Homo sapiens: one gene and its partners. The protein of the gene in region 4 purifies or fractionates together with the protein of the main gene of each other region. This does not show direct contact. Each region holds a gene or a part of one and is shown on either strand. Other genes may lie near its edges.

The links. Proteins that work in one complex are often made in the same cells at the same time.
Region 1: the proteins of MAP4K1 (region 4) and C11orf58 purify together in Homo sapiens (affinity purification with mass spectrometry, with the first as the bait; one study listed by BioGRID). This does not show direct contact.
Region 2: the proteins of MAP4K1 (region 4) and IQGAP2 purify together in Homo sapiens (affinity purification with mass spectrometry; one large-scale study listed by BioGRID and IntAct). This does not show direct contact.
Region 3: the proteins of MAP4K1 (region 4) and SPAG9 purify together in Homo sapiens (affinity purification with mass spectrometry; one large-scale study listed by BioGRID and IntAct). This does not show direct contact.

The regions. Positions count from the first base shown.
Region 1 is NC_000011.10:16,745,147-16,748,646, reverse strand, and holds part of C11orf58 (small acidic protein), read right to left. Parts: intron 551-3,500; coding exon 490-550; intron 1-489.
Region 2 is NC_000005.10:76,700,285-76,703,784, forward strand, and holds part of IQGAP2 (ras GTPase-activating-like protein IQGAP2), read left to right. Parts: intron 1-791; coding exon 792-929; intron 930-2,197; coding exon 2,198-2,306; intron 2,307-3,500. UniProt on the Homo sapiens protein: Binds to activated CDC42 and RAC1 but does not seem to stimulate their GTPase activity. Associates with calmodulin.
Region 3 is NC_000017.11:50,988,369-50,991,868, forward strand, and holds part of SPAG9 (C-Jun-amino-terminal kinase-interacting protein 4), read right to left. Parts: intron 2,301-3,500; coding exon 2,082-2,300; intron 1,505-2,081; coding exon 1,309-1,504; intron 1-1,308. UniProt on the Homo sapiens protein: The JNK-interacting protein (JIP) group of scaffold proteins selectively mediates JNK signaling by aggregating specific components of the MAPK cascade to form a functional JNK signaling module.
Region 4 is NC_000019.10:38,611,454-38,614,953, forward strand, and holds part of MAP4K1 (mitogen-activated protein kinase kinase kinase kinase 1), read right to left. Parts: intron 2,993-3,500; coding exon 2,937-2,992; intron 2,840-2,936; coding exon 2,792-2,839; intron 2,633-2,791; coding exon 2,590-2,632; intron 2,500-2,589; coding exon 2,427-2,499; intron 1,290-2,426; coding exon 1,158-1,289; intron 1-1,157. UniProt on the Homo sapiens protein: Serine/threonine-protein kinase, which plays a role in the response to environmental stress. Appears to act upstream of the JUN N-terminal pathway.

The DNA of each region.
Region 1 (3,500 bases), on a different chromosome or scaffold from region 4:
CAGCCTCCCAAGCAGCTGGGATTACAGGTGTGAGCCACCACACCAGGCTAATTTTTTTTTTTTTTTTTTTTTTAGTAGAGACACGGTTTTGCCATGTTGACCAGGCTGGTGATTTGCCTCAAGTGATCGGCCCACCTCAGCCTCCCAAAATGCTGGGATTACAAGCATAAGCCAAGGTGCCCAGCATTTTTTTCTCTCCTTTTTTTTTTTAAATTTAAGAGATGAGGTCTTGCTCTGTAGCCCAGGCTGGAATGCAGTGGTGCAATCATAGCTTCATTGCAGCCTCAAACTCCTGGGCTTAAGTGATCCTCCCACTTTAACCTCCCAAATAACCGGGATTACAGGCATTAAGCCACTGCACCCAGCTCTAATTATAATATTTTAATAATTTACACAATTACATGCCAAAGTAGAATATCCTGAAACATGAACACATACTTCATATTCTGAATTTAGCACTTCCATTTTAATTACACTTTACTTTCTTACCGGTTCGGAAGTGAGATGTTGATTTGTGATCTCCTATAACAAGACGACCAGTATGTTCTTTCTATAAGAAGGTTGAAAATGTATTAGCATTTGAGACCACTAATTTAACCTTATTGGGTATCTACTATGTGCTGAAAACTATTCTAGGCTTCTGGGACACAGTGAAGACAAAAGATTAAATTAGAATCTCTGCCTTTAAGGACCTTACATTCTAGCAAGGGTAGGAATGGGGAAGGGAGACAGGCAAACGTAATCACTATTTATACTATGTTAGAAAGTACTAAGTGTGATTAAAACAAAACAGACCTGAGTAAGGAGTAGAGCAGGTTGGAATTTTAAATAAGATGAATAGATAACTAGAAAATTGAGTCAATCTAAACATTTTCTTTCCTAAAGGCCAGTTAAATGAGTTGCTTTAACTTCCCACCTGCTCTTTCTGCTGCCTCAAGTATATCTCATGGAGAGAAAGCAAATGAGATTTAGCCTGACAAAAATGAAATAATTGAAACTTATAATGTATCATATAAAGTGATAGATCTTATTACAGTATATCACAATCATTAGCTATCTCTTTACTATTTGACAATAAACTACTAATCTCAACTTGTCAAAAAGAACAATTTAAAACAATCCTGTACTCTAAACATAAAAATACATATGATTCAATATTACCAACTGATTAAACTGCATAATTACTCTCAATTTAATCAGTCCAATCCACTCTTTATGGTTCATATTTAGTTTCATAAGTGCTCATTAAAACACCATGTGAAGGTGAGAATAAATGTGACTTTGGAAAGCAATCTTAACCAATCATCTGTGAAGATACAGTAACAAACCTTCCTATTGTGAAAAAATGGCAGATACAGTCTCCATACACAAAAATGATACTACCGAAAAACTTCAAGTGTTAATGCTCATTGCTTTATGTGCCATTAACACATAAGCAAATCAATAATTCAGTGTGTTACTAGTTTAGGTTGCAAAACTGACAGCCATTAACAAGATTTTAATATAACAGCATCAAGTTATTCCAGGATGATGACAGTATTGCACTGATCTATTCATATGTTCTTAGCTGGTTCTTCCTGTGACCAATAAAATATTCATGATAGCCGGCTAGGATTACAAATATACTTTGTGGCCACAAAATGGAATACCTCTAAACACCCCATATGAAGATCAAAGCTACAATCTTGGCCTCACAAAGAATTTAATCTATGGGCCAGGCGCAGTGGCTCATGCCTGTAATCCCAGCACTTTGGGAGGCAAAGGAGGGTGGATCACGAGGTCAGGAGTTCAAACGGTGAAGCCCTGACTCTACTAAAAATACAAAAATTAGCCAGTCATGGTGGCAGGTGCCTGTAATCCCAGCTACTTGGGAGGCTGAGGCAGAGAACTGCTTGAACCCGGGAGGCAGAGGTTGCAGTGAGACTGTCTCAAAACAACAACAACAAAAAAAAGAGAATTTAATCTATGCTGAACAACCTATTTACTAGTTAGTCAACTTCCATATATTTTATATTAGGATGTTCTTCCTAAGTACTTGAATAAGTTTCATTCTACTAAGTTGAATATGGCCCCTAAACTAACACTTACCTTACATATCCTTAACAAATCTTTTAAGTCCTCACTTAATTTTCAATGATAGGTTCTTGGAAACTTCGATTTTAACTGATTTTAGTTGAAACAACCTATAATGAAAACAATTTTCCTCCTTATCAGTGTTACAGTGAAACAACTTTATTGTCAGTTTGCCAAAGGTTAGTTTCCAAGAACCACAAGGGATGTTAAGTGAGGACTTAATATATTTGCATGAAACAAGAGAAATTGCAGACTATTTTCTATGACAAATTACAAATTGGGAAATCTCGATTAATGAGATATTATACAAATGCTTTATTTAAATAGGTCTCAGTGTTTTACATGACCTCTTCCTATCCCCAAACCTACTGTTGTAGTCTGGCTAACTCCTTCTCATCCTTTGAGATTCAGATCAATTCTATTTTGGGGAAGCTTTCTTGCACTGCTAAACCAGAGTTAGCTGCCCTCTGTGATTCCACAGCACTATGTGCATGGCTTTCTCACAGCAATTACAATTCTGTATTGCTATTATCTGGTTTCCTCCATTACATAATAGCTTCAAACATGTATTATTGATCTATATGACCACCCAGGATCCAGCACAGTAGTAGGTAGTCTGTAATTGTTGGGAAAATGAATGAATGTATTCCCATGTGCATAACAAAACAAAGAGCAGAATTTCATTTTAATGTGCTTAAAAAAAGAGAAAAAAAGCTTTCCTATTTCTTTTCAATTTAGTTTGTAGGAAGTCTGTTAGGACAATGTTAGGAAAATAAATTTACTTGCTTACAAAAACTAAGTATCTAGAGATCCCTGTATAAACTGCTAGGATAAAGAAAGGTTTTTACAATAGATATTTTCCTGGCACTTGTTTTATATAGTTGACCCTGAACACAGGATTAAACTGTGTGGATCCACTTATACTTGAATATACTTCTGCCTCTGCCACTCCCAGACAGTAAGACAATCCCTCCTTTTCAGCCCACTCAACATGAAAACTATGAAGATGAAGACCTTTATGATAATCCACTTCCAATTAATGAAGAGTCAATTATTTTCTCTTCCTTATAATTTTCTTGATAACATTTCCTTTTCTTTATTGTAAGAATACAGGATATAATACATTTAACACCCAAAATATGTGTTAACTGATAATTATGTTATCAGTAAGACTTCCAGTCAACAGTAGGCTATTAGTAGTTAAGTTGTTGGGGAGTCAAAAGTTATATGCAAACTTCTGACTGCCTGCAGAACCAGCACCCCTAACCCCCACATTGCTCAAGGGTCAACTGTACCTTCTATTAACGTTAACCAAACTGACAGGCATTTCAAAGTATCTTGAACATTTTTAAAATTAAGGTTTTCTTTCCCCCTGGTGTTCTACACATTCAGAGAAACTTCTCTATCTAGTAACAAACTATAGAAAT
Region 2 (3,500 bases), on a different chromosome or scaffold from region 4:
GTGGAATTAAGAGTACCAGCCTCACCAGCTTGGCTGACGTGGCGAAACTCCTTCTCCTCTAAAAATACAAAAATTCGCCGGATGTGGTGGCATGTGCCTGTAATCCCAGCTGGAGGTTGAGGCAGGAGAATCACTTGAACCCGGGAGGCAGAGGTTGCAGTGAGCCAAGATCACGCCACTGCACTCCAGCCTGGGCAATAGAGCAAGATTCCATCTCAAAACAAAACAAAAAACCTCCCCCCAAAAAAGCAAAGAGTACCAGACTCACAAGTATGGTTATGAGAGCTACATGATATAGTATATAGCAAAGGAATTTATTAGTTTAAAAGTACTATGGAAATGTTAATTTTGGAAATGTGAGGTAATATTTATAAGGCACTTAGAACAATGCTAGCCACATAGTGTTTGTTAAATAGATTAAAACAGTCCTAGTAATATCGTTATCTAGGAATACACAGTTCATGTTATTGCACCAAAGCTACTTCTGAAATGACTAAAGATAGCCACTTGGTTCAATATACCTGAGAAAATAGAGTGTAAGTTTTATTAAAAATGTTAGTCTGTAATGCAAACTTCAGTCACTTGGGAAATCCCTTTCCCCACAAACAGTTTAGTAGTGAAGTTGCACTCTATGGACAAAATTACCTACTATCACAAAATAAAAAAGTGTATATTCAGCGCTCTGAGGGCCAGGTATGAACAGCGATGTCACTCTGAGTATGGTAATCGCACTACCAGAAGCCTCTGCATTTGCCATCATAACAACAAATGTTCTGTTCTTATTTTGTCAGAAATACTCGGAGATCAATTAAACTAGATGGAAAAGGAGAACCCAAAGGGGCGAAGAGAGCGAAGCCAGTGAAGTACACTGCAGCAAAGCTGCATGAGAAAGGTGTCCTGCTAGATATAGATGATCTTCAAACAAACCAGTAAGTGTGACCTGGAATCTGCATAGAACACGCATGCCATTTGATTTCTTGTGGCCTTGGAGAGAGCTCCATTTGGTCTAGCAAGGCTTAACCTCAATTACTGATGGGTGACAAGGGAAGAATACACAAATTGTTATGGCTACTCTTCCCTTGGCCTCAGCATCTGGTGCTGTCAGTCATATGTAGTGTTGATCAGTGGTTGTCTTTCCCGTGGCTTGTGCAATATGTTTGGATTGGTGAACCTCCAGAACTGAGTCATAGCAATGAGAGTAAAAGGCTGTCTTTTGGTCTTGATGGATGAATTATCTACCATTGCAAAATAGCACCTTTCTCATTTAAAATAGGCTGTGCCAACCCCTGGATCAGAGCCATTTCCAAAGCATGCTGTGAGTGTGTGTATTCGGTGTAGTGGAAAAAACAAACCCTCCTTCACAGCCCCACATCAGGCACCATGTGCTGCCTCCTTTTAAAGGGGTCATGAGCCCAGTGTTCCATCACTTTCTTGTCCTAAAATCTCAAGGGAAGCCAGACTCACTGGCATTTGCCTTTTCTTTAACTCCTGCCTTCCTTCAAAGCCTGACTTCTGTTTATCCCATGAAACCTCCTGACAACACCAACTCAGAAGAAAATGCTTCTTCCAGAGATGGAGTCTCACTCTGCGGCCCAGGCTGGAGTGCAGTGGTGGGATCTTGGCTCACTGCAACCTCCACCTCCCAGGTTCAAGCGATTCTCCTGCCTCAGCCTCGCGAGTAGCTGGGATTACAGGCACATGCCACCGCCCAGCTAATTTTTGTATTTTTAGTAAAGATGGGGTTTCACCATGTTGGCCAGGTGATCCGCCCGCCTCGGCCTCTGAAAGTGCTGGGATTACAGGCGTGAGCGACTGCGCCTGGCCTGAAGTTTCTATAAAAGTTATCATCTGAAATACTCAATTGGCTATAGGTCAATAATGTTCATGTTCTGTGACTCACATATTTCCAATTATGTTTTATGCTCTTGAAGAGCAAGGACCGTATCTTCTATTTCTTTTGTAATAAAGCACCTATGTCAGAACTCTATGAGCTACAGATCTCAACAATAGCCATCAAACCTAGTGTTTGGAGAGCAGAATTGGGGGAAAGATGACGTGAGGTTTTTGGTGACTTCCTTAGGATTTTCTCAACAAGCCATTATTTAAAAATGATTATTTGAGATTCCATTAGTTTGTTTCAGCTTTAAGCACATCTGTATTTGTAATTTCTCATGTATGAATGTTCCTTTCTTCACAGGTTTAAGAATGTTACATTTGATATCATAGCTACTGAAGATGTAGGCATTTTCGATGTAAGATCAAAATTCCTTGGTGTTGAGATGGAAAAGGTGCAACTCAATATTCAGGTAAGCTGCTGGAATTTCTGCACATTGATGATAAATTTTATATGTGGATCATACATTGCTACCCTGGCTCTCTCTCTTCAGGACAACAATAAAGTTTAACAGAAAACCAGTGCCAGCCTTATTTGCCAATATTTGTTAAGTGTTGATGATTTTTAAGAGCTGTGACTTTTCAAATGATTGGAAATTGATATGCTTCTAGCTGGCAAACCATAGCAGTCAGTTTCTCTAAGCCATGTTTCCATTTTAAAGCTTAGACAAAAGAATATAATTTAAAAGTATTCAGAGCTATTAAATAAATGCTATAAATTTTCCTTTTATTGGAAACTTGCATTTCTTTCTAAGACTATGTATGCCCAGGACTGGAACTTTCATGATCTCATTTTTCCCTCTCTCCTAGAATGGTTTTTCTTTTTTGTGGGGGGAGGGGGTGGGGGTGGGGCATTGAGAAGGGGTCTTGCTCTGTCGCCCAGGCTGGAATACAGTGGCATGTATGCCCAGGACTGGAACTTTCATGATCTCATTTTTCCCTCTTTCCTAGAATGGTTTTTCTTTTTTGTGGGGGGAGGGGGTGGGGGGGGGCATTGAGAAAGGGTCTTGCTCTGTCGCCCAGGCTGGAATACAGTGGCACAATCATGGTTCACTGCAGCCTCAACCTCCTGGGCTCAAGCGATCCTCCTGCTTCAGCCTCTCGAGTAACTGGTACTACAGGCACACACCACCACATCTGGCTAATTTCTGTATTTTTTGTAGAGACAGGGTTTCACCACGTTGCCCAGGCTTGTCTTAGACTACTGGGCTCAAGTGATCTGCCTGGCTTAGCCTCCAAAAGTGCTGGGATTACAGGCATTAGCCACCACACCTGGCCCCTAGAATAGTTTTTACGTCAATTTATTAACTCTATTTGTCAAATGCTTGGGATCACAGGAATGAAAGGCATTATGCAAAACAGATATCTATACATAGAAAAATGGTGTTTGCAATATAAATTATCGTTATTTTATCATAAGAGCCACATTTAAGCCAAATACACGTAAATGAAAACCGAGAAATCCAGTTTCTGTGCAAAAAAAAAAAAAAAGAGAGCACTGCAAACAAATGTTCATCTGCCCCCAACTTCTTAATCCTTAGCACAAAACCAATTTAAAGAAGTAATTTATTTTTCTTTTTTGATGTAACACTTTTTAAATGGAAATA
Region 3 (3,500 bases), on a different chromosome or scaffold from region 4:
GGGTTATTAATTAATCTTTCTTACTTTATACACTAAGAATATTAAACTTTAAAAAGGATCTAGTTTAAAGAGACTCTCATCTAGAGGGGATCTAGAAAAGGCAGGAAAGAAAATAAAATAATTCACTAAATGGGCCTAGATTAACCAACCCTTTAACGGAGGAGCCTAAAACAAACAGTTTTCTTTGGTTTGTTTGTTTTCTGAGACAGAGTCTTGTTCTGTTTCCCAGGCGGCAGTGCAGTGGTGATATCATGGCCCACTGTAGCCTCCAGCTCCCAGGGCTCAAGCAATCCTCCCACCTCAGCCTCCTGAGTAGCTGGGACCATAGGTGCACGCTACCACGCCCAGCGAATCATTAAGTTTTTTGTAGAGATGAGGGTCTCACTATGTTGCTCAGGTTGGTCTTGAACTCCTGGACTCAAGCAATCCTCCTGCTCAGACTCCCAAAGTGCTGGGATTATAGGCATGAGCCACTGGAACTATCTGAGTTGTTTTTTAATAAAATATTTGCATGAAAACTAAATTCAAAAAGGTCATCCACACCCATGTGGGAAACTTGTACAATGGCAGATTTAAACAATGGCCAATTTTGCTGATAACTGGAGTGAAAATTAGAGTAGGGGTGGGATTAAAATGACAAAGAATTACTTATAGAATGGAAGACAGTAAGTACAAAAAAAAAGAAAAAAAAACAGATCAGAGGAGAAAATGAACAGAAAGATTTTGACTAATATATAGTCACACACCTGGTAAAACCATTTTGGAAAATGATGGACAGAATATATGGTGGTGGTTCCACAAGATTATACTACTATATTTCTACAGTACCTTGTGCATGTTTACATACACAAATACTTACCGTTATGTTCCAATTATCTACAGTATTCAGTACAGTAACATGCTGTACAGGTTTCTAGCCTAGGAGCAATGGGCTATACCATATGGCCTAGGTGTGTGATAAGCCATACCATCTAGATTTGTGTAAATGCACTCTATGATGTTCACACAATGATGAAATCACCTAATGACACATTTCTCAGAACATATCCCCATTGTTGACTGATGCATGATTATACTTTTATAGATAAGATTTTTTTTTTAAATTGGAAGGTGTACAGAAGAAATGGGGGGGAATATCCAGCGAGAATGATGGAGCGGGAATACATGAAATTATCACAAGAATAGGTATCTTTTAATCCACCACAGTGACACTAATTAGTGGAAATCTTTTGACTGTTTGAGATTATTTTGGTTCCTTTTATTTGTGCACTTCACCCAGTTGCCTAAGTTGATGACCCATTATTATACCTCGACTGATACACTGGGGAGAGGTCTTCTGGGATCTGAACTCCCAAAGGATCTGTAAAGACATGCTCTGTGTAGACGCCAGTTTGGGAGATGTCCACTGTGTCTTCAGCTGACCCCGCATTCCCTTCTGTAGCTTCAGTTGCTTCTTCTGCTGTTGGAACATTTTCATCAACCTCACTATTTTCTGCTTCCATTTCTACAAAGTAAATAAAACACTATTCCAAGTCTGGGCTTTTCTCCTCCAATTATTTCCCCACACAAACCCCTGTTATAGAATTCCATTCCATCTACCCACTCCTTCACACTGTACCATGAAATTAAGAATTCTTCATTCCATTTAACAGTCATTACAGCATTTTTTTTTTTTTTGAGACAGAGTCTTGCTCTGTTGCCCAGGCTGGAGTGCGGCGGCGTGATCTTGGCTCACTGCAAGCTCCACCTCCCAGGTTCACGCCATTCTCCTGCCTCAGCCTCCCGAGTAGCTGGGACTACAGGCACCCGCCACCACGCCCGGTTAATTTTTTGTACTTTTTAGTACAGACAGGGTTTCACTGTGTTAGCCAGGATGGTCTTGATCTCCTGACCTCGTGATCCACCCGCCTTGGCCTCCCAGAGTGCTGGGATTACAGGCGTGAGCCACCACGCCCGGCCTACAGTATCTTCTTTCAAGTTCTTTCAACCTTGTTACTTAAGATCTAAATTAAGTCCATAATGAGGCATCTGAGTGTAGCCTTAGACTCTATACAGATGGCAGGTAAAGAGAATGGATATACCTGGTGGTTTATCCATCACTGGAGAAGCACCATTTGTACTAGGGGAAGTGGCAGCTCCCGTCACACCTTCTGCAGAACAACCAACCACTGTGATGCCTCCTAACAGGCTGTCTGTCTCTGCTGAGCTGTTGCTTGTCATACTTCCACATAAAGATGCTTTGTCTACCTGACCAGATTCTGAAAGATCTTCTCCTGCAGGGTAGTCTGTTTCTCGTGCACCTGAAAAATAAATCTTCTTGTAACAGCAAAGTAAACTTCTATAAATAACATTTTTTTTACTAAAACAATTACAGGTTTGAAATGAGAGTTATGCAGGTGAGATGTACAGGTAGTTGAATACAGGTAGCATTAAATTTACATAAACAAATCTTCACAATATGGGAAGGTAACTTAAAAAATTAAGAAAATACTTCTATTAACACAAGTGCAAATAAACATAAAAATGTCAGAAAATAAACTTTTTTTTTTTTTTTTTTGAGACAGAGTCTTACTCTGTCGCCCAGGCTGGAGTACAGTGGCATGATTCAGCTCACTGCAACCTCCGCCTCCTTGGCTTAAGTGATTCTCCTGCCTCAGCCTCCTGAGTAGCTGGGACTACCGGTGTGAGCCACCACGCCTGGCTAATTTTTGTATTTTTGGTAGAGACAGGGTTTCGGTATGTTGGTCAGGCTGGTCTTGAACTCCTGGCCTCAAGGGATCCACCAACCTCAGACAAGTCCTAGGATTACAGGTGCGAGCCACCACGCCTAGCCAGCTTCTGTTCTTAGTGAGCTCCTCAGCAGCCACAGGTTAAAAACAATCTATTATATCTGACAACATCAGCCAAAAAAAAATTCTTTTAAATCATCAAGACTACTGCTACTACTTGAAGTATAAGCTTCTATCCATTACTGTTAAAAATTAAATGCCCCAAGTATATAGGTTGATTAAGATATTAGTAAAACATTAAAAACTAAGCATTTATAATATAAAAATATTTACAATATAAAAATAAATCTCATTTTTTAATTTAGAAAATTGTTTTATTTATATCACACTAAAAACTTTTATTGCAGTAAAAATAATATATATATAAACAAAATTTGCCACTTTAACCATTTAAAAGTGTACAATTCAGTGGCACTAATATTTACAATATTGGCATTAATATTTATAACATTGTGTAGCCATCACCATTATTTTTTTTTTTTGGCGACAGAGTTTCACTCTTGTTGCCCAGGCTGGTGTGCAATGGTACAGTCTCGGCTCACTGCAACCTCTGCCTCCCAGGTTCAAGCAATTCTCCTGCCTCAGCCTCCCAAGTAGCTGCGATTACAAGCGCCTGCCACTGCACCTGGCTAATTTTTGTATTTTTAGTAGAAACGGGGTTTTACCATGTTGGCCAGGCTGGTCTCGAACTCCTGACCTCAGGTGATCCGC
Region 4 (3,500 bases):
TGCCTCTCCTAAGGGAAGCCATTTATGAAGTGATAGAGCTATGGCAAGGCCAGGTGTGGTGGTTCACGCCCGTAATCCCAACACTTTGGGAGGCCAAGGCGGGAGGATAGCTTGAGCCCAGGAGTTGGAGACCAGCTGGGGCAACATAGTGAGACAAAAAAAAAATTTTTTTTTTAAATAGCTGGGTGTGGCAATATGGGTCTGTAGGACCAGCTATGTGAGAGGCTAAGGCAGGAGGATCATTTGAGCCCCGGCATTCAAGGCTGAAGTGAACTACGATCGTGCCGCTGCACTCCAGCCTGGGTGACAGAGCCAGATCCTGTCTCTAAAAATAATAAGAATTAATTAATTAATTTAAAAAATGTCTGGGCGTGGTGGCTCACACCTTTAATCCCAGCATTTTGGGAGGCCAAGGCAAGTGGATCACTTGAGGTCAGGAGTTCAAGACCAGCCTGGTCAACATAGTGAAACCCCGTCTCTACCAAAACATACAAAAATTAGCCAGGCATGGTGGCGTGCACCTGTAATCCCACACTTGGGAGGTTGAGGTGGTAGAATCACTTGAACCCTGGAGGCAGAGGTTGCAGTGAGCTGAGATCTTGCCACTGCACTCCAGCCTGGGCAACAAGAGTGGGACTCCATCTCAAAAATAAATAAATAAATAAAAATAAAAATAAATAAATAGGCTGGGTGCAGTGGTTCACGCCTGTAATCCCAGCACCTCCGGAAGCCAAGATGGGCAGATAACCTGAGGTCAGGAGTTCGAGACTACCCTGGCCAACATGTTGAAACCCCGTCTCTACTAAAAATACAAAAATTAGCCGGGCGTGGTGGTGCACACCTGCAGCCTCAGCTACTCGGGAGGCTGAGGCAGGAAAATAGCTTGAACCCAGGAGATGGAGGTTGCAGTGAGCCAAGATTGTGCCACTGCACTCCAGCCTGGGCAACAGAGCAAGACTCTGTCTTAAAAAATAAAAAATAAAATAAAATAAAATATTAAATTAAATTTAAAAAATAGAGCTGCAGCACGTGCAAAGGTAGGCTCAAGTGGTGATCCCTGAATTGGAGGTTCCTGGGATGGAAGGCGGAAGCTGAGGGTGGGCTTTGGGCCAGGGCTAGACAGGATCTCTGGGCCTGGGGACCCCACGCCTGCCTACCTGAGAGGGTGCACATCAAAGAGCGGTGGCTGTAGCTCGGCCAGTTCGATGGCCGTGATGCCCAGGGACCAGATGTCACACAGCTCATTGTATCCTCCCTTCAGGGCCACAGCTGCCACTTCCGGAGCCATCCTGGGGGCAGACACGCTCAGAGAGCCAGAGGTGGCATGGGGACAGGAAGGGAAGGAGGGGCAGAGAAGGAGAAGGAGTTGAGGGGAGACGCAGCACACAGAGAGTCAGATGGAGAGACAGAGGGACAGGAGTAAAGACAGACACAGGCAGATGAAGACAGAGATGCAGACGGGGCGCGATGGCTCACGCCTGTAATCCCAGCACTTTGGGAGGCTGAGCAAGGAGAATGGCTTAGGCCCAGGAGTTTGAGACCAGCCTGGGCAACTTATCAAGACCCTATCTCGGCTGGGCACGGTGGCTTTTGCCTGTAATTCCAGCACTTTGGGAGGTCAAGGCGGACAGATCACCTGAGGTGAGGAGTTCGAGACCAGCCTGACCAACATGGTGAAAGCCCGTCTCTACTAAAAGTACAAAAATTAGCCGGGCGTGGTGGCAGGCGTCTGTAATCCCAGCTACTTGGTGGCTGAGGCAGGAGAATTGCTTGAACCTGGGAGGTGAAGGTTGCAGTGAGCTGAGACCATGCCACTGCACTCCAGCCTGGGCAACAGAGCAAAACTCCGTCTCAAGAAAAAAAAAAAGAACGAAAAAGAAAAAAAAAAAAAAACAACACCATCTCTACACAAATTTTAAAAATTAGCCAGGTGTCATGGTGCACACCTGTGGTCCCAGCTACTTGGGAGGCTGAGGTGGGAGGATCTCCTGAGCCCAGGAGTTCTAGGCTGCAGTGAGCCGTGACTATGCCACTGCAATCCAGCCTGGGCCACAGAGTGAGACCCTGTCTCTAAAAACAAAACAAAATGAAAAGACAGAGAGGCAGAGACAGAGAGTGAGAGAGACAGAAACAAAGAGACAGAGAGCACTGCAAACTGAGCTAGAGGAAAAAGACAGAAATGGATATGGAGGGACAGAGAAATCAAGATAAAAATCAACACAAACACCGAGAGCAATGGCCAGAAAAGGGCACAAAGAGAGAGGAAAATGGAAAACTCAAGCGACACCCAGAGAGAATGAAAGAATCTTCCAAGGAGAAAGGACGAGGCAGGGGAACGGAGCCAGGAAAGAGGATCCCGGGGAACCAGGGTAGGAAAAACCACTGACCCCCACTCCACCCCTAGCTGCCCGCTGGGCGCCACTCACCAGTAGGGTGTCCCAATGAAAGAGAGGCGTCTGGCCAGTGTAGCCCCAATCTGGGCCGAGATGCCAAAGTCAGCTGGAAGCAGAGGGAGACATAGTGATCTGGGGTCCACTGCGCTTCCGGCCCCCCAGTCAGCCCCCCTGCTCAACCCCCAGCCTTACTCACCCAATCTGACCTCCCCAGCATCATTGATGAGGATGTTAGCTCCCTGGGAATGAGAGGGGATATGGGAGGCTGCAGAGACTCTCCCCAGCCCAGTGCTAGCCCACTCCGCCAGCTCAAACTACCCTGATCCCTGAGCCCCTGAAATGCCACTCCCATCTCCTGGGCCCCACCCCCCAACAGCACCCCTACACCCCCAGACCACCTTGATGTCCCTGTGTATCTTCTTCTGTGAGTGCAAATAGGCCAGTCCCTGGGGAGAAGGGTGGACAAGGGGACAGTGAGTGTTTGGGGGCTGGAGTGGGGCCACCCTCCCCTCCCATCCCCAGAATCCCCAGGCCTCTCCTTACCTGGAGCACTTCCCGGCAGACATAGCTAATCTGGAGCTCTGACAGGGAGCCTGTCACTGCAAAGGTCACCCCGGCCAGGCCAGGCATTGGATGGGAGCCAGGGAACCTGGGCTGGGGAGTCCTGCCCCCCCACACCAGCTAAGAGGGTGCCATAGGGAGAGGGGAAATAGGATAGGACCAGTGGGAGGGGGAGATGGTGGGGTGGTCAGTGACAGAAAGAGGCAGCAATGCAAATAAAAGAGGCCAATAGGCCTGGCGCAGTGGCTCATGCCTATAATCCCAGCACTTTGGGAGGCCAAGGTGGGTGGATCACTTGAGGTCAGGAGTCCGAGACCAGCCTGGCCAACATGGTGAAACCCCATCTCTACTAAAAAATACAAAAATTAGCCAGGCATAGTGGTGCATGCCTGTAATCCCAAGTACTCAGGAGGCTGAGGCAGGAGAATCGTTTGAACCCAGGAGGTGGAGGTTGCAATGAGCCGAGATCGTACCACTGCACTCCAGCCTGGGCAATAGAAGGAGGCTCTGTCTCAAAAAAAAAAAAAAAAAAAAAAAAAAAGGAAA